6 separate regions of the Homo sapiens genome follow, and regions 2, 3, 4, 5 and 6 are each reported to be linked to region 1. The links are microRNA targets in miRTarBase. Many come from high-throughput screens and were not tested one by one. Region 1 holds a microRNA gene; each other region holds the end of a gene's coding sequence.

Region 1 (5,090 bases):
GTTTTATCACTCATTCTAATAATTATAACATACAACACAGCAACTGGCTAAAAAGTATATAATTTTGAATTATATTCTCTAAAGAGCAGAACATTAAAGATTACTAAAAGATTATTGGTCTTTTTCTAATGCAGTGCTTAGCAGAAAAGTACTCAACAGGCATTAACAGGCTAACATTTGTTCCAATGAAAAAGAAAATAAAACTGGGATCTATGTTGGTTAAAATTACTATAATCACAAGCAAAACTAGAAATACTCAGCTGGAAAGCACTAAAAACAAAAAAGCCCACATCATTCTCCTAATCCAATCAAAGATAAGAACCTTACTCTTGCCTATGTAAGACAAAATCATTAATAAAATAATTGTTAACATAAAATAAAGGATCATTTAATTACAGGTATGCCTCACATTATGTACATTTGCTTAATAAAATTTACATCTTGAACTGTTCAAGTTGCTCATGAATTCCTCTGAACTTTTGTTTAAACAAAGAAATTTCAGACTGCTGGGCATGAACCGTTACAGAGTGACACCTAGAGAAGTGGCATTGTAGGTTAGGTTCCTTGTCTAATTATTCAGACAAAAGCAAGAGTGGGTACAGAGTTCTCATAGTGTCAAAAGTATAGTTTGAAGACTGCCAAGTTTGAGAAAGAAAAATCCAATGATCTGGAAAAGAGGGAGAAGGCTGAGGATTAGGAAGGAGAAGTAGATTTCTAGAGAATGAAAAGTATCAACAGGTTTCAAAAATGCTACAAGAAGAGTATTTCCAGTATCCCGACTCCAACTTGGCTACCACATAAATTATTCTTTCTTCACTAAAAAGTATATTTTAGTATATTAGAATTAAAAAAAATTCTTCCTGTGATACATCTGAATTTAATCTGGAAAGTAGAGGAAAACACTATATCTTTTATAGGAATTTACGTCAATATTGTGGGAAAGCCTCTATTTTGTAAAGTAAGAAATGCCAATAGTAAGTGATACCAAACAACAAAATAAATATCCAGATCTCAACATAGATTTTTTTTTTTAAAACACTACCATTCTGTTTTGTTAAAGGACTGCACTGTTGCAATATTATCCCATTTCTTTCAGCACTTTCAGAGGAAAGCACAATCAATTCTGCAAGCTAAGAGAACTAGGACAATATAAACTGATGGTTCAGGAACTTCCCTGGAGGGCTCCACAGAATGTTCTATTTTTAACTCTCACTTTAACCAAGAAGAGAGCAGGAAGGAAATGCAGTGCTCAGCACAAAAGTATTGAACAGGCATTAACAGGCTGATTTTATTTTATATAGGTGATCTGAACTAGCATTTGTTCTAAAGGAAAGCATTCTTAATAACACAGAAATAATCAGAAAAATTACAAAAAGTATTAAAGAAATGCTTAGAATACCCATGAATCTAAGGTTATTTCACTTAATAGTACCTATTAATTTTTTTTCCAGACTGTGCTTGTACAATAGAAGCACTGTGAAGGTAGTTTTCTTTTTTTTTTTTTTTAAAGATGAGCCATTTTACTAAAGCCAAATTTATTTGTAACTAGGCATCTACAAGACCAAATTGTTAAAACCTCAAGCTTATAATCTTGGGCTTCTGTCTGTGGCACTATTTTAGTAGGTGGGCAAGTTCAACTAAAGCCAGCCCCATGGGTGTATTTGGAAGGAGATGCAATTGCCATCACACTTGATTATCCCTTCTCATCTCTCATCCCCTCTTCTCTCACTCCTGTGCCTGAAATAAACATATACATATACAAAAACCAATTCTAACAAAAACAGTCACACAGAGTTTATTGCTCACAGCTATTTAAAGAACTATTCCATGGAAGAGTCTATACAACTCAAGGAAATCTGTGGGTACTTACCAGATATATTTGGCTCCAGATTTCAGTGGCGGCAGGTTAATGGAGAAGGGAAAAGGGAAATAGGTGGATTTGTAGGTATTATACAATGTCTGAATCTATGCTGAATCACACAATACATACTAAGAAATGCTCACAGAAATCAATGAAAAAACAAGAATAGCCAGAGCCACTACCTAGTAATTTACAAATACAAAATTCCTATTACTTGGATTGAAAGTTGTCAGTAAAGAAATTGACTTTGTGCCTTGAGTCCCTATTTGACATAGCCGACTCTCCTATCAATAAGCCCCCTCACCTGCTTACCCAGTAGTGCTGACTTTTCTTTGCTCGCCTTTTACACCCTAGTTACTCTTAAATTTGTGCCTTCAAATTCTGTCAACAATATGCACACATTGAAGACTGTTTATCCTAACAAGTTTCTTCCATAGTGTCGTTCATCAGGATCCTACCATAGTCTGCTGGTAACAAAGCTTAATCAACTTGGAACCATATGATTCTGGGTTATCTGGAAAGCTAAGACTAAAGATATAATACATTGATAATCTTTGAAGTTATCAAATGGTTGCAAAACTAAAAGTATAGTTTCACAGAATCATTTTGCTTTCCACAGGTATGCAACAACATCATCGTTTGGAAAAAAAAATTAAATTATATCGTTGGTAAGAACCGAGACCAAGTAGCTTCAAATGCATTTAGGTGTATTAGGTCCGTTTGATGTCATGCTTTCATATATAACAATATCCCTAAAAAGTTGTGTAGCAATAGGGAGAGACATATTTGACTTCTGCTAATGAGTTTGGTATGCTTAAAACATTAAGCTTTTTAGATAAGCTCAAAACCAAACTGAATTTGTCATCCAAATCTACTTTGGAAAAGAAATAAGCAATAGCTTTCACAAATTTTTAACAGGTAAATTATATTAGGCCAAAGATGTCACTTAAATTCTAATCCCTATTTCTGAGTATGATGCATGATTTAAAGGTATTACAATTAATGAAAAATATAAACAAATGTTAACACCTTCATACAGCATTAAAAAAAGCAAAAAAGCAGTGGAAACCTGAGTAAAAAGAAGCCAGGAAGCAGCTGAAAAAGAGACCGGTTCACTGTGAGAAATGTAAACCTCTCAGACAGTGCTACGGCCCCGAATCCAACAGCTCAGGAACAAGGCCAATTATTGCAAAATATTAAATGTATATGGTGAAGCTACAAACTTGTCAAGAGTCATAAGAATAATAAAAGCTACACAGAAAACAGCTAGGGCTTTGTAAACCTAAAATCTTCACTATAATTACTACCTGCAGAAAGTTTCTTTATACTATACCACACTCCTTATATGCAGTGTACTTCACAGTATTCAAAGCATACATTTTATGATAAAGGTTTAAAGTAATAAATCTTTATTAGTGAAACTGGTAAGTAATCTGATCTTTTGAAATAGTTGCTTTCATTGACTCCAGTTATTGACAGTTGGTTGCCAAGCTGTTACAAACCAATTCTCTATTATTCTACCTTTTAGAACTAGAAATGACTCACATGAGACACAAAGAATTATGGAGTTTTACAGTACACAGAGGCTTCAACAGACAACACAGTAAAAATTCCATACTTTGCAAATGAGTCCAACTGAAACTCAGTGGCTTTAAGTGATATGCCTAACACCAGTTACAAATGACTAAGGGCCATCAGGATTCTGACTTTTATTTTGTTGTTCTTTCCCATTATACAGTGCATTGTTCAGAAAGTCTTATGTGTGTAGCCAGGGTTTCTTCTGTTTCTGTTGACAGGGGTTTACTCAACCTTGTTTTGAATGAACAGTTCAGTAGTTTCACATTCATAACAAAAGACTAGTACATTCATTTCCCCAGCAGTAATGTTAGTCCTGATTTCAGTTGTGGTCCACTGGGACACATGGATAAAAGACCTAGAGCATTTTATCCTTGAGATATTTCCCCATCCTCCTCCCTATCCACCAAAGGAAAAATAATGAAAGATCCTGTATTTCTACTGCCCATACCCTATCTGGTCTAAAAATACTTTGCTCAGTTGGGCTTGTTAATTTAGGGCAAAATTTCTTTAAGTTCAAATACAAACTTTTAAACATTACTTGTGCCACAGTGAAAAAAAATTGCTCCAAGTCTACTAGTGTTTTCATTATTTGGTTGAATAATTAGTTTCACCCTTTTATGTAATTAAAAAAAAACATGCTTCTTGACACTGTGGGGTAAGCAAGTGTTGTTTGACAAGAAATACAAATATAAGAGATATGAAAAAGTATTTCTCATTTTTAATCAGATTGGGATAGTAGAATGTAGAGAGGTAAGAAAATAAAAACCAAAAGGAAACCCAGAAGTATGTTTCCATATAAAAATGTAAATTATGAGACAGTAATTGCTATATACCTGTAAAAAAACTCAAAAACAATAAACTATCATGTTAATTTCCCAGTACATTTTACTTTTCTACACTAGGGCACATACAAACATAAATGCACACTTTTCTGTTAAGTTTTTTTTTTTTTTTTTTGAGACAGTCTCACTCTGTTGCCCAGGCTGGAGTGCAGTGGCGCCATCTCAGCTCACTGGAACCTCCGCCTCCTAGGTTCAAACGATTCTCCTGCCTCAGCCTCCCGAGTAGCTGGTATTACAGGTGTGCGCCACCATGCCCGGCTAATTTTTTTTGTGTATTTTTAAAGTAGACACAGGGTTTCACAATGTTGGCCAGGCTGGTCTGAAATTCCTGACCTCAGGTGATCCACCCGCCTTGGCCTCCCAGAGTGGTGGGATTACAGGTGTGAGCCACCGTGCCTGGCCTTCTGCAAGTTTTGACATAAAAATTAATGATGAGCTAACTATAAAAAAGTCTTTAGATTATAACTTTTAAAAAAGAGTTCAAATCCCCACTAATTCTATGAAAAGGTTCAATACAATTACCAACACAACAGTTGGCACTGGCCCTGCTGAACTTTTCTTTAAAGGAAAATTTTCTATGATACTTATTAGCATAACAAAATTCCTTTCTCTTTTAGATAAGAATGCTTTGAGGATTTATTCCTTTTATTCTTCAAACTGAATGAGTCAACTAACTTAAGCTGTAAGTTAAGAGGATACTATATAAAACAGCTGAAAGGACAAGTCTAGCTTTTATAAAGTGTTATATTATGACTGACTCATAAGAGTCAAACACAATGTCAAACATTTTTCAAAGACATGATTCTCTT
Region 2 (5,090 bases), not on the chromosome of region 1:
GGATTGTAAATACACCAATCAGCACCCTGTGTTTAGCTCAAGGTTTGTGAGTGCACCAATCAACACTCTGTATCTAGCTGCTCTGGTGAGGACGTGGAGAGTCTTTTTTTTTTTTTTTTTCTGAGACGGAGTTTCGCTCTGTCGCCCAGGCTGGAGTGCAGTGGCGCAATCTCGACTCACTGCAAGCTCCGCCTCCCGGGTTCACGCCATTCTCCTGCCTCAGCCTCCCGTGTAGCTGGGACTACAGGCGCGCGCCACCATGCCCGGCTAATTTTTGTATTTTTAGTAGAGACGGGGTTTCACCGTGTTAGCCAGGGTGGTCTCGATCTCCTGACCTCGTGATCCGCCCGTCTCGGCCTCCCAAAGGGAGAGTCTTTATGTCTAGCTCAGGGATTGTAAATACACCAATCGGCACTCTGTATCTAGCTCAAGGTTTGTAAATACACCAATCAGCACCCTGTGTTTAGCTCAAGGTTTGTGAATGCACCAATCGACACTCTGTATCTAGCTGCTCTGGTGGGGCCTTGGAGAACCTGGGTGTGGAAACTGTATCTAACTAATCTGATGGGGATGTGGAGAACCTTTGTATCTAGCTCAGGGATTGTAAACGCACCAATCAGCGCCCTGACAAAACAGGCCACTAGCCTCTACCAATCAGCAGGATGTGGGTGGGGCCAGATAAGAGAATAAAAGCAGGCTGCCCGAGCCAGCATTGGCAACCCGCTGGGGTCCCCTTCCACACTGTGGAAGCTTTGTTCTTTCGCTCTTTGCAATAAATCTTGTTACTGCTCACTCGTTGGGTCCACGCTGCTTTTATGAGCTGTAACACTCACCACGAAGATCTGCAGCTTCACTCCTGAGCTCAGCAAGACCACGAGCCCACCGGGAGGAACGAACAACTTCAGACGCACCATCTTAAGAGCTGTAACACTCAGCCCGAGGGTCCGCGGCTTCATTCTTGAAGTCAGTGAGACCAAGAACCCACCAATTCCGGACACAATCACAATGGGGTCTCTGGAGCTCTGAACCTCATGCGATTATTTAAGAAGTCTTGAGACAGTGTAGGGGGCACACAGTTGCTGTGTGTGATGGCTCCCCTGTGACCAGTCACCTAGGCACTGAACATTTGGGGCGCAGGAGATACACATAAAAGCCAAAACGGAATGTTAGGTCGAGTCTTCCCTGGAACTCAAGCAACACAAGATTAGATTCTTCTATTGAAGAAACAAGAAGGAGAAGCACATCTGATTTTTCATCTAGGAGGCACTCACTTTAAACAAATAGCATTCATGCCTTTTTTGAAAGAAGACAGAAAAAGACATCTACCCAAACTGCCCTAGTCCTCCCAGGCCAGCGTGCTGCAAGCCCGTGCAACTGACGGAGTTTGCTAGGAATGCAGAACCTCTGGCTGGACCCAGACCTGCTGAGTCCGAATCTGCATGCTAATAAGCCCCGGGTGATTCACATGCACATTAAGGTCTGAGCAGCTCTGAGTTCTAAGCCCTAATCACACCAATCTTCACACTGTTCCTTAGGGGACAGTGAGCTGCTCAGGGCCATGCAATACGGTTCCCTCTGCCCAGAATGCTTTCCTTCTCTTCCTTACATGGGAAACTGGAGCTGGACGCCCTTCCCCACATTCCCACATCTCTATGATAGCCTTTGTAGCATTGTAATTTAACTGTCTTTTGTATGTTAGACTAATGAAGTCTACCCTCTGGGCTGAAACTAATGTTCTCCAACTATTTTTTACATTTACATTTACATTTACAATGTTTACATTTAATAAATTAATACTCTCAACAAAAGTAAGCAAAAAGGCAAAATGAGTTGGGAGCAGTGGCTCACGCCTGTTATCCCAGCACTTTGGGAGGCCAAGATATGTGGATCCCTGGAGGTCAGGAGTTCAAGACCAGCCTGACCAACATGGTGAAACCCCATCTCTACTAAAAATACAAAAATTAGCCGGGTGTGATGGCGCATACCCGTAATTCCAGCTACTCGGTAGGCTGAGGCAGGAGAATTGCTTGAACGCAAGAGGCAGAGGTTTGCAGTGAGCTAAGGTAGCATTATTGCACTACAGCCTGGGTGACAGAGCCGAGACTCCATCTCAAAAAAAAAAAAAAAAAAAAGCAAAATGAACCATAAAGAGAACCATAAAGTTTAATAAAAAGCAATCCAGTGACCAGACCCAAAAATCAGACACAGGTTTAAAGCAGTATGAAATGTATCTGCTTTTGAATTTTGCCGGTTGTAATGACTTTTTTTTCTTTTTCTTTTCTTTTTTTTCTTTCTTTCTTTTTTTTTGAGATGGAGTCTCACTCTGTCACCCAGGCTGGAGTGCAGTGGCACGATCTTGGCTCGCTGCAACCTCTGCCACCCAGGATCAAGCAATTCTCCTGCTTCAGCCTCCCGAGTAGCTGGGATTACAGGCACCTGCCACGGTGCCTGGCTAATTTTTGTAATTTTAGTAGAGACAGGGTTTCACCATCTTGGCCAGGGTGGTTTTGAAATCCTGACCTCGTGATCCACTCACCTTGGCCTCCCAAAGTGCTGGGATTACAGGCATGAGCCACTGCACCCAGCCTGTGATGGGATTTTATGCATGTGGTAGATTGTCAGATACAGGCCCATGGATCACGTCAAATCACATGCCCATGCCCTTGAGTGTTACCCTCCCAAATTGACTCTGGGCCTGGAACGTGACTCGCTTTAGCCAACAGGACATTAGCGAACGTGGCACAACAGGGACTTGAAAAGCCCTTGTTCTTTAGGGTTTGCCTCCTCCAGCTGCCCTGAGACAACTTGTGACAAAGACCAGGTGAGCCTGCGGGGCTGGGGAGGAAATCCTGATACCTCCAACTCTTTTGTTGCTAGCCAATGGGAAAAAGAGTGTACTGAGTCAAGCATATTGTTCTTAAAACGGTTGACATCTGTCAACTGAATCCTTCAGAAGCTTGATTAACTGCTGTTAGAGGCGCTTAACTTTGCTATAAATACCTAAGAATAAAGCGACACCATAAGGCAATTGAGACTTAGTTTATTCCATGTTTCCCTTGAAGTTCCCTTGAAGGCGTGTGCTGTCAGTTACTAATAGAGCTGTGTAGAAAACTCAGTGACAAAGTGTCATTTTGACCTGGAGGGCTGCAGGGGCTGAAAGAATCCAGCATTCCCCAAACTGGAGCGAAGAGCACCATGAGACCACTGGGGGTTACTGGCTCAATGGCAGCCCACGGATGACAATGCACAAACCTCATTTGTGTGTGTTCACATTTTGACAAGGAATAGCACCAAGAACAACCTTTAGGTAAACAGTCTCCTCAGCACATTTTTTGCTCCCTGAATTGCTGTGTGCAGCAGTTTTCACTTCAGTTTCCACCTGACAGGTTGTAAATCTAAAGGGTGAAAACTCTATTGTGAAATCCACTGTTCGGCCCATTTTAGATGGCAATTAGGTAGGCAAGGTGGCAAGTGTGTCTGTCCTCCTCTCCACCAGCTGTGGTTTTTAGAGCCACGGTTTCAGACCACTTGAAGGGCCTTGCACATATATGCACACACTGGTGCAAAGTCACAGAGCTTAGACTTGGGAAGCCAAGAGGTCATGTGACCCATCCTTCATCTGGACAGATACACTTAAGCCATCCCTGAAGGTCCTTTATCTTCTCGGGGAAAAAAATAGATGCAGTAATACACTCTAGGGCTCCATCTGACCTTTATCAATAGGACTTATTTTAATGATTACCATTACAGAAAGGAGGTTGGTTAATCCCCAAAGATTCCTTATCTGTGAAATGAGGAAGGTTACAATAAGAATGTGAATAGAGTACTAACACCAAGGAAGTGAAAATACTAACCTCAAACTCCCATGTAAGCATTTGGGGGATACGTGTAGTGATAAGTACAAAATACACAGTTTAATAAGAGCCACCCAAATAGCAATCTTTATATTCATTCCTTATCTCCTTTGCACATGAAACTCCTTGTTGGTTTTAATCACCTCTACAATTAATAGCTGAAGACCCTATTGACTACTCTTTACTATGATCCAATTAATAGAAGAAAAAAGCAGCTTAAGGACAAATTATGACTTAAAATGGTTATTTATGAAGGCATATTAAGGCATATCATGCAAAGTAAAATTAGCCAAAGAAAGTCAACTGGTGGAGAGCTTGTTGAAGCAAATTTAAAAAAAAAAAAAAAGGTTAACAAAAGTCTAATGTTTTTAGAAAAAATTGCTATCAATCTGTTTCCAAATTTGAATTCATCTAATGCTAAGAGTAAAAAACAGGCACATACAATTGTGGTTATTCTTCTCACCCTTAAGAGTGAGTGGCCTGTTGAAACTGTTAAGAAAGAAAGAAAAGTTTTATAATCTGAAAATACCTGGTGGGTCTTGAACCACGACAACAGGAACACAGTGCTGAATTTAGCAACTATAATACTGCCATCAGCCTAACCAACGTAGGCTTTAGAAGAACTGAATGATACAATGGATTGATCTACCTAGGAAAGTTCTCAGGTCTCTCCTTCAGCCTAGTATTGCTTTGTGCTAAACTGACTGCCCTCTCATCTGCTACTTCATGACAAAGCCCATTAAAGGTCCTCAGACTCCGGGATTTTGGTGGATTTCTTGTGCAGAAATTGCAGTGAAAAGGCTGTTGGAGAAAGAGGTCTTGATTCTGGAATATGCTCCATTCTGTATTTTTCAATGTATGGAGCAGCTACTTCCCAAACCTGAAAAGCAAGGACAAAACAAAGTTGAAATATTGACGACATTGTTTCCACATGCTATTAAACATCAACTTCATCCGAAGTCAAAACATACTCTATACATGACCAGACACAGCTGCTGTTTGCTTGCTTTTATTTTAAGCCATTTGACACATGACCTGTGTCAATTAGTCTTTGGTTGCATTAAAGACTGTAAATATACAAAGTCCAAAACTTTCTAAAGTCATCATAAAGATTTTAAGCTGCATACTTTTCCTAAGCAAAACAAGCAAGCAAATAACAAAACCCAGAGAATTCAGTGTGGATAGAGTGAAGGATAGTTGCTCCAGGGTCTTAACAGTACCTATGTGGTTTTTTTC
Region 3 (5,090 bases), not on the chromosome of region 1:
GGTAGCCACTAGTCATATGTGGCTATTTAAATTAATTAAAGCTGGCCAGGCACGGTGGCTCACACCTGTAATCCCAGCACTTTGGGAGGCTGAGGCAGGCAGATCACCTGAGATCAGGAGTTTGAGACCAGCCTGGCCAACATGGCAAAATCCCCTCTCTACTAAAAACACAAAAATTAGCTGGGCGTGGTGGCATGCACCTGTAGTCCCAGCTACTCAGGAGACTGAGGCAGGAAAATCGCTTGAACTGGAAGGTGGAGGTTGCAGTGAGCCGAGATTGTGCCATTGCACTCCAGCCTGGATGAGTCCCCTCCATCTCAAAAAAAAAAAAAAAAAAATTAAAGCCAAATAAAATGTTAAAGAATATTTCCCAATCATACTAGCTGCATTTCAAGAGCTCATTAGCTTATGTGAGTGGCAATTATATTGGGCAGTGCAGATGTAGAACATTTTTATCATTGCAGAAATTCTACTGGACAGCACTGCTATAGATTATATCAGTACACTGAGAAAGCACTTGACCAGGTGTGGTAGCTCAAGCCTGTAGTCCAGCACTTTGGGAGGCTGAGGCAGGTGGATCGCTTGAGCCCAGGAGTTTGAGACCAGACAGGATAACATGGCAAAATCCTGTCTCTACAAAAAATACAAAAATTAGCCATGTGCAGTGGAACATGCCTGTGGTTCCAGCTACTTGGGAGGCTGAGGTGGGAGGATCACCTGAGCCCAGGAGGTTGAGGTTGCAGTGAGCCATGACTGTGCCACTGCACTCCAGCCTGGTTAACAGAGTGAGACTCTGTCTCAGAAAAACAAAAACCAAAAAAAGCAAATAAGTGATTATGTCTGGAGAAAGTAGTGCACTTTTTATTCTATATTCTTCATTATTTCCATGTTTATGAGCATGTATGTATTTATTATAGTTTAAAATGTTTTTCGCTTTAGCTTTAAAATATTTTTATTTGAAAAAATATGATGGATAAGATGTCCTTTAAATGATTTTTTTTTTTTTTTTAGTATTGATCATTTTCCATGTGTCTGTTAGAGGCAATATTTATCAAACTTACAATTGAAATGCTGCTCAAAAACATTGGCACTTGATCAGTAATTATGGTAATATTAACATAAAACTTTTTCCTAATGTATATCTTGATTTTTTTAAATGAACAATAGAGGCAGGTAAATAATAAGTTAACTTATTCCTGTCTCAAATTTTAAAAATACTTGTACTCTTACCAAAAAAAAAAAGTTATACCCAATTCAAATGACACTGATCTTCTATTGCGCCCTCTTCTCTCTATCACTCCCAGTTACTCTCTCCAACACCCCACAATGGGAAAGTTTAATGATTTTTCAGTGGATGGATGTTTCTTAGACAGGTATGCATGTATGTATGAATGAATGTAAATTTTGTTTAACACCAGGAGAATTGCCTTGTTAGACATATCCTTTAGTGGATTTTTAACCAATTGTCATATAAAAATACACAGTATCCCCGAAGTGGAAAACAATATATTAATTTATTCCCAAGAAAACAAAACATGGAACCTCATCGAAAACAAACATCAGATACAGTAGTTTCAGGGCATTCCCATGGGCTGTCAGAAACCCACTAGCCCAAACACTATGCTCTTCCAACATTAAAGTATTTAAGACACAGGAGAGATGACCAACAACAGACATGTAAACATCAATTCCAGAAAGATTTCTTGTTCTACATGAGAAACATCCAGTGTAAAACGGTTCCTCTTCTCAGGTGCTGTCATTTAAATAAGTTGAAAAGAGACAATTTTTAAACTCCACTGCTGACCCTGAGTGCATTCGCTATCCCCTCACCTATTTTGTTTTGGGACAAAGTCTCGCTCTGTCACCCAGGCTGGAGTGCAGTGGGGCACTCTCAGCTCACTGTAACCTCCACCTCCTGGGTTCAAGCGATTCTCATGCCTCAGCCTGCCAAATAGCTGGGATTACAGGCACATGCCACAAAGCCCGGCTAATTTTTATATTTTTTAGTAGAGATGGGGTTTCACCATGTCGGCCAGCCTGGTCTGGAACTCCTGGCATCAAGTGATCTACCTGCCTTGGCCTCCCAAAGTGTTGGGATTACAGGTGTGAGCCACCACGCCCGGCCCAAGCCAGAGGTCTTGTAAGGGGACTCATCCCATCATGAGGGTCCTACCCTCGTGACCTCATCTAAACTTCCCTTACCAAAGGCCCCATCTCAAATACCATCACATTGAGGGTTAAGGCTCCAACACATGAATTTTGGGGGGACACAGTCCCATCTATAGCCAATGGCAGTTTGTGCTTGGAGCCCACTCTGGTCACCTTAGTGGGACTGGCCTCTGTGCAAGTGACAGGTTTTCACATGTGGCCTTCAAGAGTTCCTTGTGTGACCAGCTGTCCCTATTCCTTAACACTTTACCACCCAAAACAACTCCATTTTTTTCAGTAGCAAGAAAAAAGGTTTTACTTCAAAGTCATTCCCTTTAAATATGATTGACATTCAACAAGCACAGTTACAGAAAAAAAATAAAATTGTGTTCATTAAATGTGTCATCCATTTGTAGTAATTGCTTTTTGTTAGAATAAATAAATATTTAGAAACTCAACGGTTTAGTATTACAGGAATACTAAAGTAGACTTCACATTTTTTCTGAACTGACAGGACTTTTTCTCAGTATTAACACTGAGACCATTCTTAAAATCTACCTTCTCTGGTATACTAAATATGGCTTTATTTCACCTTCTCTCAGTAAATCCACCTCAGGAAATGAACTGAGAAGACCAGCAACAGAGTCCCAATTCTCACCCAGAGAAATTGTTCCCCGGTGCTATTAACCTTTCTAAGCCTCAGTTACTTCATCTGCAAAATGGGAGTAATTATATAAGGGCCTCACAAGACTGTTGTGAGGTTTGAATGAAATTAGATACATAAAGGAATACCAGAATGGCTGGAACACAACAGGTCCTCCCTCTGTCTCCTCCTTTCTCCCTCTCTGTTGAATAATCTCTGATTTAACCCTTAATTTGTAATTACTGATCTCCTGGGCCTGGTATCATGCTACACAGCCCTGTGTGTTCCTGTATTAAACTACAATCACTCTGTAAGATTCTCCAGAGGAGGCTTTCTGGTGTTGACATTATTGCCAAGATTTTTAGAGTGAAAAAGCTCTTATGTTTCCTTTTTGTCTCAGTACATGTCCTGTACATAATAGACACTCAAGAGATGTTGATTGAAGGCTGAATGAATGAACGGATGGATGAATGAGGGATAAATAACAGAGATGTTCATCTACAATTGAAGGCTCTTAAAAATCGAGCCACTACTATCAGTACCAGGCAGTGTAAAGCTACTCAGAGCATACTATGGTGCAATTAAAAGCCTCACAGGATAGAATTTGGTCTCCATTTTGCAAGTAAGATAATACTGGGGAGAGAGGGGTCATAGAAGAGGAAAGTGTTCCAGACTTCAGACTAGATCTATGTGATAGCACCTCTCTTGAATGCATATCTCCATTCTTGCAAGGACTTTTTAGTGTTCTTAATGGAAGACATGACATAGGGACCAGCCTACATTCTGGCATATAAGAGAGAAATGTTTTATTCCCCGAGGTCCTTTTACTGAAGCAACAGACAGTGAATTCTGTCTTAAAGCATATCCTGTTTCTTGTTAATGACTTTATACTATATACAGAACTTTGTCCATGAGTAAGCCAAAAATGCTAGTGTTGAAACTCAGAAACAAGATGTATTCTCCATTCAGGTAGCTTATGTTTTAAAGGAAATTGGTGAATTACCCAGAAAGCTGTTTCACTATCTGTCTGGTTGAGCACAGTGGTGACTGTTAAGGTGTTATAAAAGATTCCTTCTTCAAAGAAACCTAATTCTTATTTTCCTAGACAGTATTATCTACAATTCTCTTTTTTACTAAAACATTTGTATATGATGAGTATCTGGTGCAAAGATCTGAGGTCATTTAAATTTATCATTGATCCTAACAATAAACTAATATAGAGGTGAGCATCAAGAAACAGCAAGACTAAAATTGGCCAAAGTGCCCAGATTGCTCTACCCAGCCATCCTGTTAGTGTATTTCACAGTGTCCAGTGGATATTTTAAGTATAATTACGTAGCCAGGTCCTGAAGCTATAAACGTGGTCCTGAAACGGTTAACATTACGAAGGCAAAAGTCTCTCACAAAAACAGGCTCCTCTTCCCAGCTGCAGTTTCCCTTCAGTCATGAGTAGCTCATGAATAGCTCAAAAATACCAGCTGGGTTGTATCGCAGTTTCACTCTGATTGAGGGTTCTTTCGCGATGCCTCAGTTCTAGGCATTCCACAGTAAGGGGGTAGGTATTAAGCTCAAACTTGTTAGCAAACAGGCTTGGTGAATTAACCAGCCACTTTAAGTCTCCGTTTCCATAGATACAAATACCATGTACATAGTGGCCTGCAAAAGAAAGAACAAGAAACAGAGTCAAAACATGCTTGCTTTCAAAAGGGTGATGAACTTACAGAATACTAGAGGTACTCTCCGACTAACTACAACTGTGCCAATGGTACAGGATTCAAATGAAATATGATTGTGCAGTCTCAGCCCACAAAGAACTGGAACTCTATTTAGAAGAACAAGAGGTACAAATATGTTATTTGAAAAAAATGAGAGTTAAATCATACAAGGCATAAAGTAACAGGTGTTAATATTTTAATTATGTTAATTATTGTGTATATCAAAATTAATATGAAAATTGTGTTAGTAACATAATAGGTGTTACAAGGTCATTCATGTACAGTAATCCCCCCTTATCTGCAGTTTTGCTTTCTGAGGTTTCAGCTACCCGAAGTCAACCACGATCCAAAAATATTAAGATATTTTGAGAAAGAAAGAGAGCATATATCTTTTATTACACATAACTTTTTTATTCACAGAACTTTTATTCACATAACTTTTATTACAGCATATTGTTATAATTGTTCTATTTTATAATTAGTTATTATTGTTAACCTCTTACTATGCCTACTTCAAAAATTAAACTTTATCATAGATATGCATGTACAGGGAAAAACAAAGTATATTTAGAGTTCGGTACTGT
Region 4 (5,090 bases), not on the chromosome of region 1:
CATGCAATGAAATACTTCCCGGCAAGGAGAAGGAACAAACCACACGCACACATCATGAATGACTCAAAAGCATTAAGCTGAGGGAAAGATGCCAGACTCAAAAGGCGACATCAGTGTGACTCCATTTATATGACATTCTAGAAAAGGCAAAATTATAGGATCAGATAATCAATCAGGGTTGCCAGGGAAAGAGGGCAGGAGAAGGGAATTTTTTGGAGGGTTAAAAACAGGTTGATCTTGGTGATGGTCACAAGACACTAAATTTGTCAAAATTCACAGAGCTGTATATTTCCAAAGGGTGAATTTTACTGGATGTCAATCATACCTCAATAAACCTGGGAAAAGGTGGTGGCGATGGGCCTTGTAGGGATGGCAAGGATTATGGGGATAAGACGATGTCCAGGCTACGTGGGGGGGCAGCTGATCTGTACCCCACTTAACATTAGAAGTGCTCTCTCCGACCTACACAAGGAATGCATCTTGAGCCTTCTGTTTAAACACTCCTTGTCAAGACTACCTGCAGCTGGAAGTAAAATCACCTAAACAAGCCAAGGTCGCTGATGTCCTTCGAATGTTATGGCTTGTATTTCCAAAAGGGACTTTGGCTCAGCCCAGATTTTTCTGCATCCATCCACTCATCTAGTAATTGATTGGTTTTCACAAAGGGTAGGGAAAGAAACCCCTGGTTGGTGAATTCGTTGGTACACTGTTTCGGTGTGCCCAGCTGTTTATCAATCCTGACTAGCAGAGCACTGCCTCCCACCGCAGAAATTCTCCTTGGCCAACAGGGTGCTGAGTGGAGGTAGAAAGGAGGCCCAGGGTGGTCCCACTGACAGAATCTCAGGGCCGCCATCCCCACGGTCCAAGGGGCCTATGTGTTGCCACTGACTGAAAGCACTAGAAAGAATAGAGGGTAACAAGTGGCTCTTCCTGGAGGTTGTCACAGCAACCAACTTGGAACACCATTTGGCTTAAGGAATTTTTTTTTTCTTTTTAAATCAGGCTTTCACAAACAGATCTTGTGCATCAGTCTCCTGGGTGGAGGCAGGTAGAAGGGGCTGACTTGTTCTCAGAAATGGAAGGGACATTCTCAAGAATAGCCCAGACCCGCCCACTTTGAATAAACCCAGCTAAGTCCTCACCTAAGCACCAAGACATAAAACAAAACAACAACCCGGATAGCGTGCTTGCCTCTCCAAAGTGCAGTCTTTTATTTTCTCAGTTGCATCCTAACCTTGATTTCAACCAGAAACGGGCCCCTGTTCATACGGATAGGGGTTCTGGACTGTTGACTCTAGCCCTGGTCTTAATTCACTGGCAATTTCATAGCCTCACTGGTTACCCTTGAGCTTCACTTTCCTATTTGCAAAGAGTTATTTATAATTTTTTTGAGATGGAGTCTTGCTCTGTCACCCAAGCTGGAGTGCAGTGGCCCGATCTTGGTTCACTGCAATCTCCGCCTCCCAGGTTCAAGCGATTCTACTGCCTCAGCCTGCCGAATAGTTGGGACTACAGGTGTGCACCACCACATCTGGCTAATTTTTTGTATTTTTAGCAGAGACGGGGTTTCACCATGTTAGCCAGGATGGTCTCGATCTCCTGACCTCGTGATCTGCCCACCTCGGCCTCCCAAAGAGCTGGGATTACAGGCGTGAGCCACCGTGCCCGACCCTTATTTGTAAAGAGTTATTTAAAGCAAACAGAGAAATTTCTGAAATTCGAATTGGATATGGGCCGTGAGGGTCTGGTGACCAGGTGATTAAAATCTTGTTGCTGTCTACCTTCCATCCAACAGGTAAATGCCTCACGACGGTGGTTTATATTATAATAAAGAATCCCAGAGGGTTAAGTGTGGAGAGGGTACAATGTTCTTATTATACTCTTCTCAGTCGACATGGAGAATAGAGGAGAGCAGAGGAATGCCCATCTTACATACAACTAGAGCGCCGCTTCTCAGCATGCCTGGCTTGTCTTGAGCATTCGCTGAATGAATGCAGATTAATCAGAACAACAGACTTACCTCTGAAAACTTAAATTCTGTAGAGTGCCTATGTATCAATGCCAAGGTTGCTGACCGGTAAGACCCCTGAAAACGAGCGATCACGGGCTTCCCTGACGACAGGGCCATTATAGTGTCCTCAGATTAGATCTTAGCACAATGGCTTTAACCTGCTTGATGAATGAATAACAGAGGGAAGAAAGAAAGGAAGTACGTGAAGGGGGTAAAGAGAAGGAGGTGAGGGGATGAGGGGGGAAAGAGTGACCTCCAAAAATGGACTGGCCCAAACTGGGCCAACCTGAGCTACCCTGGAAGACGCAAGAGGGCTCACTCTATCCCAGGGATGAACAGAGGACTCTGGAATCCTCAGATGTAATGGAAAAGTCAATGAGCCATATTGTACTCAAAATATCTTGTTAATAACAAGGCTATTGGCTTTGAATGTTTGGAAATCATCCACAGAGTAGTTTACTAAGCCACAAAGCAATTACCACTAGCACCCATTTTTCATAAAGAAACCAAGAAATAATATTCTAAAATTGGTAGCTGGTGTCATGACCCAACCCCAGATCTGGACAGAGTGGTTCTCCATCCCATGGACAGATCCTACCAGGAGGTCTTCACGTAGGTGAAGGCCTTTGTGCTGACCTTTTTGGTTGCAATGTTTCAAGAACAAGAGAAAAGTGACAACGTTTGGTTTACTTTAGTATATTAGGCATTTTTCTAATGTGAACTATACGAAAGCAATTCTCATTCAATGAAAGAGGCGCCAAAAAATTAGAGATTAATAAGTCATCGGTTTCTAGCACGTTGACTGAAAGACCAGTGAGTTGTGCTTGTTGAATTCTGCCCTCACTGCAGATGTGCAGGTCAAACCCAAAGTGGTCAATGGGAAAGATGAAGAAAGATGGATTTCCAGGGCATGGGCTCCCGACTAGAATCTGCCCCTCGCTCATGCTTCTCCCGGCCCCTTTAGACTCTTTAGACTGACATGGTGGAGAATGTGTTTGCTGTGGTAGAGAAAGGGAGAAAGTAATGAGCTGGGCCAAACAGCAGCACTGAAAGCTTCCCAAGTCACACTCAGACCAGACTTTTCCAGGGATTGGAAGATGGAGAGAGGGAAAGGAGGTGCAGACACCAAGTAAGGGTTTGGTGCAGGGCTCTGGAATGTCCAGAAGGAGCGGGAAGCAAAGGTGGCGGGACACTGCCTGAAAGGCGACAACCTAGTGTGGCCACAAGAGAGTCTGCTATGCCTGTCCAGTGCCCACCAGTGACAGAAAACTGTACAAGGGACAGCAGTCCCAGCCCTGCCATACACAAGAAGACAGAGCCATCTGGGGGATGGCAAAGACTTGCCCTAACCCATCTCACATGTAGGACTGACCCGGCCCCATTAAGAGCCTGTGGTGGGCGGCCCGGGAGAGTGGGGGCCAGGGCAGCCCAAAGGTGCACAGGGCACCGTGGCGGACAGGCCCCAGCTTGCTGGCCTCTGAGACGAGCTGGTTTGTTTCCATCCCTGAAGCCTTTGGACGAGCTGGATGAGGTCTTGATAACTGAGAACTTTGGAAAGCTTCCTCTAATGAGACTGGGAAGGGCTGGCAGGGTGGGGGCAGGGGCCTCCCCGAGGAAGCAGCTGGGGGAAGGATGGATTGGCATTTCCAGAGGAGACTTTACAGATGGCGCCTGATCTCATGGGACACGATTCAGCGCTCAATTTGGGGCTAATTTGCCGAATGAGGTAGTTCCATCCTGACCTCTCCAGGCATGGTGGGTCTGGGAAGACAGGAGCCAAGCCTTCCTCCTAAAACCCCTGGTGATGAACAGTGGCTGAGAAAGCCAGATGTGGACTCCCAGAATGCAATGGGAAAAAAATAAAGAAGGAGGGCTGCAAAGGATTCTGGGTGCGGCTGTGAGCTGAATGGCACCTTCTACCCATGATTCTGATCCTGACACCTGGCTTAGAGACAGAGCCCTCCCTACCCTGATCCTCCAAAGCCCTGGAGACAAGGGAGCCAGCTGGAGGAAGAGCCTTGGGGCTTCCAGGGCACAAGCATGTGACAGTGACCCCTACAAAACTCGGCAAGGACCACAAAGTTCCAGCCTCTGTTTGTTTCAGAGCGGCAAGCACAGCATGGGAGTCAGGGGGTCTTCAGCCTCAGAGACAAGGGCAGGGCTGTGGGTCTGTCTTCTGGGCCTGGGAATATGGGGGAGCCCCCAGCTAGGCTGTCCGGGTCACCCTTCTGGAATCACCAGCTCTCTCCCCTCTCCTCAGTGGCCCAGGAGAGAGGGTGGGGGGCATCCACTCGGCATGGGCCCCATGGTGGGAGCCCAGCCCCCCTCCCCAGCAGGACCCCCCGAAGCTGCACAGGCCCATCTAGATCTCCATGTCCACAGGGCGGATGTTGCCCGTCTTGTGCTCTCTGACCCACAGCTCCCTGTCTTTGGCCGGGTCCACTTTTCGAAGCAGCTGATCCACGGGCTCGACTGTCTGCAAGAGACAGAGAAAATGCGACACTGTTAGAGACGGCGGCCAAGCCAGGGAGGTCTCCTCTGAGACATGCTGTCCTCACCTTAGTGTCTCTGAGAGCAGCCTCTCTAGAGGGCTCCGGGGCCCCAGGGGGAGGCCCATCTGAGGGACAGCACATGAAGAGGGCTGTGAACGGGGAACCCAGTATGCATCCCGACCCTGCTTCTCACCCTGCAGACCCCAGGCCTGGATGAGAGGCCAGGAGGGCCTTAAAACCTGTCTCTATCCCTTCCACCCCACATTTACCACCAGTGAACAGGACAAATAAAACTTGAGCTTTAGGTATTGTGAATATTTCTAGAAGTTGTTTTTTTTGGTTTTGTTTTTTAAGAAATTTAATAATGTCTTCAGCTACTGTAACTGTTACGAGCTTCTTTCTCCTCAGGGTAACAGCTCACGTGTGTGTCCACTTCATGTGCCAGGGTCGGAATCACACAGACGTCCAGGACAATCCTGAGAGGCCCAGTCCACGAGGCCACCCCCAGGCCAGAGCACCTGCCCACTGCCCGCCTTTAGGGCAGATTCACTTGCAGCAGCCACTTAACCTGCCACGGCCTAGCGCCA
Region 5 (5,000 bases), not on the chromosome of region 1:
GGCCCACCTGCCCCTGATTCCCACAGCCCTTGGCACCCTGTGGGGTATCCCCATGAGGGTCCCCATCATAGCCCTCAGGGCGCCTCCTGCTTCTGTGACCGCCCTGCAGCCTTTCCCAGTCTTCTCTCCTCCCCTCTCTCTCAGCACCTACCGCCATCCCTGTTCCTGAACAGAGAGCCTCAGAAAGGACTAGGAAAAACCAGGCCAGAAAGTGTGGGGAGTTTTGCTTACATCCAGGAGTTTTACTTTTATCTAGAGACCCCTCATTTGTGGTCAGCCTGCCCACTAGGCCTGCCCCATAGTCCCACTTACATCACACGCAGTCCTCCCTCACCAAGTGGTGGAGGTCCGCGTTGAGCCCATGCCCAGTCCGAAGTCTAGCCCCACATCTGGCGGTTCAGCCTCGAGTGGCCTTGGGCGAGTCACTTCCCTCTTGGGGCCCCAGAATCCTTACCCGGTGCCTATTGGGTGGCACACCTCTGGGTAACCTGACTTCTCTCTGTCCACCGTATCTACCCAGGTCCCAGGTCTCGAAAACCAAAGAAGAAGAACCCGAACAAAGAGGACAAGCGGCCGCGCACGGCCTTTACCGCCGAGCAGCTGCAGAGGCTCAAGGCCGAGTTCCAGACCAACAGGTACCTGACGGAGCAGCGGCGCCAGAGCCTGGCGCAGGAGCTGAGCCTCAACGAGTCACAGATCAAGATTTGGTTCCAGAACAAGCGCGCCAAGATCAAGAAGGCCACGGGCAACAAGAACACGCTGGCCGTGCACCTCATGGCACAGGGCTTGTACAACCACTCCACCACAGCCAAGGAGGGCAAGTCGGACAGCGAGTAGGGCGGGGGGCATGGAGGCCAGGTCTCAGTCCGCGCTAAACAATGCAATAATTTAAAATCATAAAGGGCCAGTGTATAAAGATTATACCAGCATTAATAGTGAAAATATTGTGTATTAGCTAAGGTTCTGAAATATTCTATGTATATATCATTTACAGGTGGTATAAAATCCAAAATATCTGACTATAAAATATTTTTTTGAGTTTTTTGTGTTTATGAGATTATGCTAATTTTATGGGTTTTTTTCTTTTTTGCGAAGGGGGCTGCTTAGGGTTTCACCTTTTTTTAATCCCCTAAGCTCCATTATATGACATTGGACACTTTTTTATTATTCCAAAAGAAGAAAAAATTAAAACAACTTGCTGAAGTCCAAAGATTTTTTATTGCTGCATTTCACACAACTGTGAACCGAATAAATAGCTCCTATTTGGTCTATGACTTCTGCCACTTTGTTTGTGTTGGCTTGGTGAGGACAGCAGGAGGGGCCCACACCTCAAGCCTGGACCAGCCACCTCAAGGCCTTGGGGAGCTTAGGGGACCTGGTGGGAGAGAGGGGACTTCCAGGGTCCTTGGGCCAGTTCTGGGATTTGGCCCTGGGAAGCAGCCCAGCGTACCCCAGGCCTGCTCTGGGAAGTCGGCTCCATGCTCACCAGCAGCCGCCCAGGCCCGCAGCCTCACCCGGCTCCCTCTCCTCACCCTCCTGCACCTAACTCCCTCCTCCTTCTCCTTTTTCCTCCTCTTCCTCCTTCCTCCTTCCTCCTGCTCCTCCTTTCTTCTTCTTTTTCTTCTCCTCCTCCTCCTTCCTTCCTCCTCCTCCTTCTCTTTCCTCCTCCTCCTCACCAAGGGCCCAACCGTGTGCATACATCGTCTGCGTCTGTGGTCTGTGTCGCTGTCCCCAGTCCCACCGCAGTCCTGCCGCAGGCCTAACCCTCCTGCCCTGGGCACTGCCTCCATGCAGAAGCGCTTCGAGGTTCTGGGGCTAAAGGCCTGGGGTGTGTGGCCTAAAGCCCAAGAGCGGTGGGGCGACCCTCCTTTTGGCTTGGCCCCAGGAATTTCCTGTGACTCCACCAGCCATCATGGGTGCCAGCCAGGGTCCCAGAAATGAGGCCATGGCTCACTGTTTCTGGGCGGGCAGAAGGCTCTGTAGAGGGAGATGGCATCATCTATCTTCCTTTCCTTTTTCTTTTCTTCCCTATTTTTTTCTTTTTTTCCTTTATTTTTTTCTTTTCTTGGAGTGGCTGCTTCTGCTATAGAGAACATTCTTCCAAGATAAATATGTGTGTTTACACATATGTCTGCATGCATGTGAACACACACACACACACACACACACCAGGCGTGTTTGAGTCCACAGTTCTGAAACATGTGGCTACCTTGTCTTTCAAAAGAACTCAGAATCCTCCAGGATCTAGAAGAAGGAAGAAAGTGTGTAAATAATCATTTCTTATCATCACTTTTTGTCTTTTCTTGTTTTTTAAAATATACATTTTATTTTTGAAGGTGTGGTACAGTGTAAATTAAATATATTCAATATATTTCCCACCAAGTACCTATATATGTATATAAACAAACACATTATCTATATATAACGCCACACTGTCTTCTGTTTAGTGTATGGGGAAAGACCAATCCAACTGTCCATCTGTGGCTGGGACAGCCCAGGGGGTGTGCCCACGGCTGACCCAGGGGTGTGCACACGGCTGAGCTGGGAGTCCCGCTGGTCTCCCTGAGGACTGAGGGTGAACTTCGCTCTTTGCCTTAAACCTCTTTATTTCATTGCAGTAATAGTTTTACGTTGTACATAATAGTGTAAACCTTTTTAAAAAGGAAAGTATAAAAACAAAAGTTGTAATTTAAAAGTCTGAATAACCATCTGCTGCTTAGGAAACTCAATGAAATGACATGCCTTTTTAGCAGGAAGCAAAGTTGGTTTCTGTTTTTTGTTTTCTTTGTTGTTTTAGTTTATAAAACATGTGCATTTTACAGTTCCAGTATCAAATATTTATAATCTTATGAGAAATGAATGAATGTTTCTATTTACAACTGTGCTTATCAAAATTGTGAACACCCCCACCCCCGCATTTTTGTGTGTTGAAATTCTTGAAGGTTACATTAAATAAAACAAAATCTCTTTATTATAAAATACTGAAGGTCCCAGGTGGAATGATGAGTTTTCTAAGCATGTCTGAGTCCAGAGGAACTGCCTGGGCATCCTCCCCAGTACTCAGGTGCTCATGGCCTTCGCCCCGCCTGGGAGCAGGTGCCAGGTGCCTTTGTAGCGAGAGGTGATTATTATTTTTTTTTAAATAAGACAGTTTGGATATGTCACATGTGAGCACAGAATAACCAAAAGAAGTACACATTTTGTTACCAGGAGGAAGTGTTCAAAACTACGGTGCTATTCCAGTGACTACATTTTTTTAAATTTTGCGAAGTTCAACAGGTCTCCCTCCGGCTGGGTGCTCACTGGCCCTGCCACCCGTGCTGGACCGAGGCGCTTTCCCCTGGGGACAGGAACTTTTTACTCCACTGAGACAAAGAGACTCTCCTTTTCAAAGTGTCATTTTTGTTTACCTTTTGTTGTTTCCCCCCCAAAACAAAAGACTTTGTACAACTTCCTAAGCAGGATTGGGGGAGGGATCAGCTTCGCCTGTGCTGACCGCGCCTCTGGATTCCGCTCATCAGGAAGTGTTTGGGGTCTTTGAGCGAGTGATCTACGCGTTGAATTGCTGTTTTTCCAAACTTTCATGGCTTAAAAATTTTTTTTCTTCTCCCTGTAAAAGAAACTCAGAGACTGGTGATCTGTTACCGAAGACGACTTTTTAGGCGTTTTCTGTTTCCCCAGGCAGCTGGGCCGTTGGCGTTCCCAGGCGGAAGCGGGGCCTCTGGGCTGGGCCTCTGCCCTGCCAGGAAGCGGTCTGGGGGCTGCCCCTCGGGATTTTCAGAACCCTGGAAGGAGAGAGCTGGGGTCTCACCGCGGAGACTCCCGAGTTCTCGTTGCCTGGGCCCGAGCTGCGCCCCAGGGTCATCGCTGATGGCGCGAGACCACGCATTCCCCGCGAACCCCGACTTCTGAACAGTTCAGAAAGTTCGTAGATTAAAAACCAAACAAAAAATACTGGCACAACTTCTATTGCCGTATTGGCCTCTCTCTTATTTTAATAAAAATACGGTAACATGAAGCGATCATTTTTTTAAAAATCTGTTTTCAAAGTATAACACTGAAAAGGGGCAAGGCACAGCTTTGTAAGGTAATGAGTTCCCCGTCCTCAGAGGTGTTCAAGCAGACGCTAGGCTTACAGTGGCATGGAGAGTGTTCTTTCTCTTTGGAACTGGATGAGTCCTCAGACCCTTGAAACGCTGAGTTTTTTTTTTTTTTTTTACTCCTATGTTTATTACATTTTAATCCAACAGCATATAATCTAAGCTGCTCCCTCATGGAGAGCCGCGGCTGTGCCACCTGCCTGCTTTCGCCATGGAGACCGGAGTCAGGCCTGCAGGGAAGTCGGTGCGCCTTTCCCAAGTCCTCTGCCCGCTGGTTCCTCTCGGGCCTCCCGGGCTCTGCGTGCCGCGGATCTGGACCCGGACTGCAGACACCGCCCCACGACTGGGCCCCCGGCCAGACTGTTACCCCACAGGAGGAGGGTTCCCTAAGTGTGCAGAAGAGGAAAGCTCATTTATAAAGTCCTTGCTCCTTCGAGCTGAACGACCCCCGCGCCCGAGGCCTAGCTGTGTCCCCGCCGGGCCCAGGCTGAGCTTACTCCACACTGCTCCATAGCCGGGCAGAGACTCCGCGAGGGTCTGGGAGTCCTGGCCTCGGAGGACCCGCCGCCCTGCAGGCCTGCCCAAGCAGGCGCCCCCGCGAGAGTGCGGGACAGAGAGGGCCTGGCGGGGCTCCTTGGCGCTGAGAGCCCTCCTTCTCCGCTGCACCCAGCTCTGCCAACGGGGCTGGATGAGTGGGGGCTGGAGTCAGAATCCCAGGGTCTACACCCGCCGACAGCAGCAATGCCGACCCGCCCTGCCTTTCTCCTAAGGAGCGGAGGGAAGGAGCCATGTGAATGACCCCAGCCTGACCACCAAGAGGGCGCCAGCATTTCTGTTTTCCTAGAGTGAAAAGGTCAAATCGATGGGGGCTCCTACACCGCTGGACACAGGTGCGCCCGG
Region 6 (5,090 bases), not on the chromosome of region 1:
TTTTCTGTGTTACTATTCTAAGTGAGGTACTATTGTAAGTGAGGTCTTTTGGCCATGATATTTCCTAACTAGTTACTACTAGCAAACAGAAAGTAACATTATCTCCTAATGCTGTGTTTGTATAACTCGAATTTGATCATGCTGTTTGTTCTTTTGATAGAGGATTGATTTTGCAGTATTTTGTTTAGCACTTTTGCCTCTGTATGTGAGCTCCACTTTAGTCTCTTGAGTATGAATGGATGTGCGCATGCACGCACCTTTAGAACTGTTAATATACTATGGAATTATTTCTTAATAGTTTGAAGGAATTTATTCTTATAACTGCCTGGGCCTAGTATACTTTTTGGAAGATAATCTGGTGCTTGCTTTCCCCTAGTTCTTCAAATGTTATCATTTTATTCTCTTTTGAGAGCTTCATCTTAAGTAGCTCTGCTGCCAGTAATACAATTTACAGTGCTTTACAAAGCACAAAATGCCGGGCGTGGAGGCTCACACCTGTAATCCCAGCACTTTGAGGCCGAGGTAGGAGGATCGCTTGAGGCCAGGAGTTTGAGACCAGCCTGGGCAACATGGCGAAACCCTGCCTCTACAAGAAAACATAAAAATTAGCCAGGCACGGTGGCTAATTTGGGAGGCTGAGATGGGAGGATTGGGAGGTTGAGGCTGCAGTGAGCCATAATCACATCACTGCATTCCAGCCTGGGCAACAGAGTGAGACTCTGTGTCGAAAATAAAGCAAAAAATGGACAGTATTTGCATAGCCATGATTTCATTTAATGACTATGTGCCCTACGTGTGGTCAACAAGGGGTAAAAAAAGCATCAGAGGCCCAGAGAAATTAGGGAACGAGGTCAAAATCACTCAGCTTGGATACAAAGACAGATTAGATATGGTCCTAATCCTCCCTCTGAAAAGGCTCACCTGAAAAAGACTAGAACAGACAGACCCTCTTCATGTGTTTGCACTTTCAAGTCCTAGTTCTAAGATAGGGCAGTAGCAGGTACCTATAGAAAGGGGAGCACTGAGAGAGGGGGCATTCAGTTTTCAACTGGAACCCAAGGTGATCCCTCACATTAAGAAGGGATCCTTCTTGTTCTGTGCAGGCTAATACACTTGTGATCATTTCCTGAAGTGATCAAGGCCCCGAAGTCTATAGATTCTATATTTCTCCTCCACACACCAAGAGTCACAGAAATGTTCCCAAAAAGAGTATTTTGACAATTCATTTGCCCTTTCAAACCTTTGATTTTCACATTCAAAATTCAGTCTTGAACAAGAGTGCTAACAGGTTTTTTTTTTGTTTTTTAAACTATAGACTCATTCTATTTTGAGACAGTAGCAATCATTCCATTCTTGTTTTCAAAGGATGCTACAATCATTTAAATTAGGATTTGAGATTCTCATGCGATTATAATGAGTGATCCAAATCTGTATTACTCTGCTTAATTTTAGGGATCATAAAGCATAATAATCATCAACAGAATGAATAATAATACGGTCACAATATCTTGCTCTGAATGTTACTTCTAGGCTTTTAATAGTTATAAACGGATTTCCACAAGCGTAAGGCACGAATTCATATATTAGAAACAATACATATACCTTCTCTATACTTTGCAAGGACTTCAGGTAGCCACTTAATTTTTCCTTCTTGACTAGGGAGAAAGAAATAGTAAGGCACTCAGAAAGGAGACGCATCCTCACTTAGTGGAAACCAAACACCTGGAATCCGGCCCCAGGTCTGAATGGAGAACAGCTCTAGAAAAAGCCTGCAGCTCAGGAGGGGTGTCTCTCAGAAACCAATAGAGGATTTCTCCCTGGGGTTCCCACTGTTACCACACATGCAATTCTCAGAGGAATGCCGTTCCCATGCCAAACCCTGGCAAAAGTTGGAGAAACTTCCCTCCTCAGTTTTGGCAAAGCACGAGCTGCTTCCAGTGGATACAAACCATCCACATCAAGTGACAAAACCAATGAAGCAAAAGGCTTTGCCACCTTAGTTTCTGTTATTGTCAATCTTATCATTTCCCGATATTTGGCTGATGAAAAGAAATTTACTAAATAGTTTAGGAGAAAAAAGGGGGGTAAGGATTACAGAAGATGCAAGCAGCACACAAATAGAATCAGAAATCAGGTCTCTGGCAACCCTGACCCGCTGGTCTCTGGCCCCAAAGGCAGGTCATTGCTTGTGCTTTTTCCTACCTAGGTCTCCCAGACTTTTGGGACAGGCATCACCACTGGAGCTTTGCTGATGCCCCCTCGGGTAAGCCAGCCCCACCCACCTGATTCAAGATCAGGAAGTAGCTGGCATATGCATGCATTCACATGTGCATACTCATGTCTTCACACCTTCCTGACCACCACTTCCTCCTAATGCACCCTTAGGAGAGTGCGTTCCAAGAGTTGAAAACTAGCATCCCTCAGCTGCTCTTTTCTGCTCAGCTGGTCAAAGGGCTGAAAACTATGGAACACACCTGTTTCAGGCTTCCCAACAAAAGAGGCACTGTCCTTCCTCTGAGCCAGGTCACAATGAGGTCACCTTCATCAATTTTGTTTCATAGCCAGAATCCACTGCATCCTCTATTTAGATATCATCTGCACTTTACTGCTATATGCTTTATATCTTGGCTTCTTCCAAAAGTAATCCAAGGCCTTTTATAGAACAAAACCATATACCTTGAGAAAGATGGTGCAGTTTGAAAGCCTCAAGGTTTTCTTCCTACATTACGACAAAAAGTTGTTTTCTTATTCACTATTTTCTTTGATGGAGAGATGAAGAAAAAAACTGCACAAGCCCACACATTCTGATCCATGCATCCTTTATTCCATTACCAACCACTGTGCCGCATCCAAGCAACAGTACACAAACTGGCAATCAACCGCAGTCCAGTTGTACAACGATCTGAGGCTTACAGTACATTTAAGGCTTTTAAATGTGGAAAAAAAAATTAAAACCAAAGAACCCCCAAATCCAAACCCCTAACCAACACAAGTAGTATAGCAATGTTAAGCATCTCCTATTTCTGATGCTTATTTGGCGCAACTTCCAGTGTCAAAACCCAAATAATTCCTAAACTAAAAAGATTAGTTTAGTGAAATTTTAATTACATAAATTCTTCAAAGCATAAACTTGGAATTTTTGTCTTGGAAATGTTATAAAATTTTTAATAGCAAAACATAGGAATAAAAACATATTAACAAAATGTATTCAATCATTTACATTACAAACAAGGAATCTGCAGTTCATTGTTGTAGCCTGACAAAAGAAATCATATCTACCATTAAGAATCTATGCACAATGTGATTGCAAATATGTACAGTACTTTAAAAAAGCCTACAAGGAGGACTTTACAGAAGGAAAGTCAGCTAGGCTCTTTGTTAAACCAACCAGACAATCAAAATAGTAAAACTCTGTTGGCTAGTAATAAATTTACACTTAAAAAAACCCCTAGTTTCTTTTTGTTTAAGAATATTCCAGTTATATTTATATGGTTACAGTTGATGAAGCTGTACACGAGAGTTCCAGTAAATTACCCTTCAGTTCATTTGTCCGGGAAAGATCAGCATGTTAACAAAAAATAATAAAGGAATTTTCACCACACTAGCTTTCCAGTTACACTATCACAGCTTCACAAATGGATTGAACCCATGTATCCAGTGGCAGAAAGAGAGCTGCATGTGAAATACCGAGAACATTGGTGGCAACAGGGCAAGTCCTGCATGAATGTCAGAAATGATGGATAAGGTTGAGAAACAGATGCGAGGCTACTTTATACAGCACTAGAAAATTGTCCCTACATTCAGCTCTCATTCCCATTCCTGCAAGGTAATGAAGCTGGGAATCACGACTGTTCAGTTTAACGTGTTGTGTGAATTAGCAGAACCACCTCTAGATACAAAAGACTGAGATTTCATCAGCTCTTTGATTAGAACACCCTAAAGGTTGGGCACTTCTTCATGGTTATCAAGCCTTTACAGCTACCCAGTTAAAGCATGTGCAAAACAGAGGACTCTTCTGTTCACAGTAAATGAGGTAAGATCAAGTTGTTGTCTTCAGGAATTAGGAAGTTCGTGAGATATGAACTGTTTTAGTCTTTCTAGGTATTGTGCATAAAGCTCTATGTCATTATGCCCAGCCCCTTCAACCCAAAGGGGCTCCACGGCTCGGGGACAGCGCTCGTACATCGCTAGGCCATGGGAGAAATCGATGACCTCATCCTCTGTACCATGAATGACCAACACAGGAGAGGTGACTTTAGATATCTTGTCAATGCTGCAAAACAGAAAGGGGGGAGGCAGAAAGAGGACTCCATTAGTTATGCTCACAGATAATACACATCACATTTAATGATAAGTTAATAATCTCCACAGGCAGGGAAATAACACCGTGGGTTTTTTTTGTTTGTTTTGTTTTGTTTTTAAATTAAGGACTTTATCTTTTAAAGCAGTTTTAGGTTCACAGCATAACTGAGAGGAAGGTACAGAGATTTCCCAGATACCTCCTTGTCCCCACACATGCACAGTCTCCCCAATTATCAATATCCCCTACCACAGCAGTACCTTTGATGAACCTACATTAACATATCATAACAGTTTGGCTTTTTCTTGCTTTATTTTTTTCTGGTAATTTAGTTTTTTTTCTTAAATCAACTTTGCATTTTAGAATAATTTTGAATTTGCAGGAAAGGTGTAAAGATAATACAGTGTATACAAAAATCAGCCAGGCATGGTGGTGCATGCCTGTAATCTCAGCTACTCGGAAGACCGAGGCAGGAGAATTGCTTGAACTAGGAGTGGGAGGTTGCAGTGAGCTGAGATCGTGCCACTGCACTCCAGCCTGGGCAACAGAGTGAGACTCTGTCTCAAGAAAAAAAAGAAAAGAAAAGAAAACAAAACAAAAAGATAATACAGTGCCCTGACATACTCCTGACCCATTTCCTGTAAGGTTAACATTGTACATTACCGTGATACATCTGTCAAAACTAAAACACCAACGTTGGTGCATTACTATGAACTAAACTCCAGACTTTATTTGGATTTCACTAGTTTTTCCACTAATGTCCTTTTCCTGTTCCAGGATCCAAACAAGA

The links. Region 1 holds the annotated microRNA hsa-miR-128-3p (UCACAGUGAACCGGUCUCUUU, at 2,962-2,982, opposite strand). A microRNA usually pairs through its seed, bases 2 to 8, with sites in the 3' UTR of a target mRNA and lowers its output. Matches are read on the target gene's strand: a 7mer-m8 pairs with bases 2 to 8, a 7mer-A1 pairs with bases 2 to 7 and ends in A, and an 8mer does both.
Region 2: miRTarBase lists HAL as a target of hsa-miR-128-3p. Seed matches in the 3' UTR shown: 7mer-m8 at 4,414-4,420.
Region 3: miRTarBase lists GCNT2 as a target of hsa-miR-128-3p. Seed matches in the 3' UTR shown: 8mer at 4,092-4,099 and 7mer-m8 at 3,828-3,834.
Region 4: miRTarBase lists GAS7 as a target of hsa-miR-128-3p. The part of its 3' UTR that is shown has no 7-base or 8-base seed match.
Region 5: miRTarBase lists EN2 as a target of hsa-miR-128-3p. Seed matches in the 3' UTR shown: 7mer-A1 at 1,237-1,243.
Region 6: miRTarBase lists ABHD17C as a target of hsa-miR-128-3p. Seed matches in the 3' UTR shown: 7mer-A1 at 4,020-4,026.

The regions. Positions count from the first base shown.
Region 1 is chr2:135,663,338-135,668,427 of GRCh38, reverse strand. It overlaps MIR128-1 (microRNA 128-1), which reads right to left and starts at 3,031; the gene lies at 2,950-3,031. All of the region lies in intron 19 of R3HDM1 (R3H domain containing 1), which reads right to left. LOC124907893 (a long non-coding RNA gene) reads right to left here. Exons shown (of 2, transcript XR_007087245.1): 1 at 1,871-5,090; 2 at 1-667. RefSeq lists an enhancer at 3,614-3,713.
Region 2 is chr12:95,969,639-95,974,728 of GRCh38, forward strand. It overlaps HAL (histidine ammonia-lyase), which reads right to left. Exons shown (of 21, transcript NM_002108.4): 21 at 3,024-4,734. The coding sequence ends at 4,594. Among named protein-coding and RNA genes, the nearest start is that of HAL, 24 kb to the right of the region's middle. RefSeq lists enhancers at 467-1,112, 1,113-1,758.
Region 3 is chr6:10,625,774-10,630,863 of GRCh38, reverse strand. It overlaps GCNT2 (glucosaminyl (N-acetyl) transferase 2 (I blood group)), which reads right to left. Exons shown (of 5, transcript NM_145649.5): 5 at 1,496-4,447. The coding sequence ends at 4,257. Among named protein-coding and RNA genes, the nearest start is that of C6orf52, 66 kb to the left of the region's middle.
Region 4 is chr17:9,912,855-9,917,944 of GRCh38, forward strand. GAS7 (growth arrest specific 7) reads right to left here. Exons shown (of 14, transcript NM_201433.2): 14 at 1-4,487. The coding sequence ends at 4,374. Among named protein-coding and RNA genes, the nearest start is that of RCVRN, 10 kb to the left of the region's middle.
Region 5 is chr7:155,461,851-155,466,850 of GRCh38, forward strand. EN2 (engrailed homeobox 2) reads left to right here. Exons shown (of 2, transcript NM_001427.4): 2 at 521-2,981. The coding sequence ends at 837. Among named protein-coding and RNA genes, the nearest start is that of EN2, 6.2 kb to the left of the region's middle.
Region 6 is chr15:80,753,334-80,758,423 of GRCh38, reverse strand. ABHD17C (abhydrolase domain containing 17C, depalmitoylase) reads right to left here. Exons shown (of 3, transcript NM_021214.2): 3 at 2,803-4,273. The coding sequence ends at 4,054. Among named protein-coding and RNA genes, the nearest start is that of CEMIP, 23 kb to the left of the region's middle.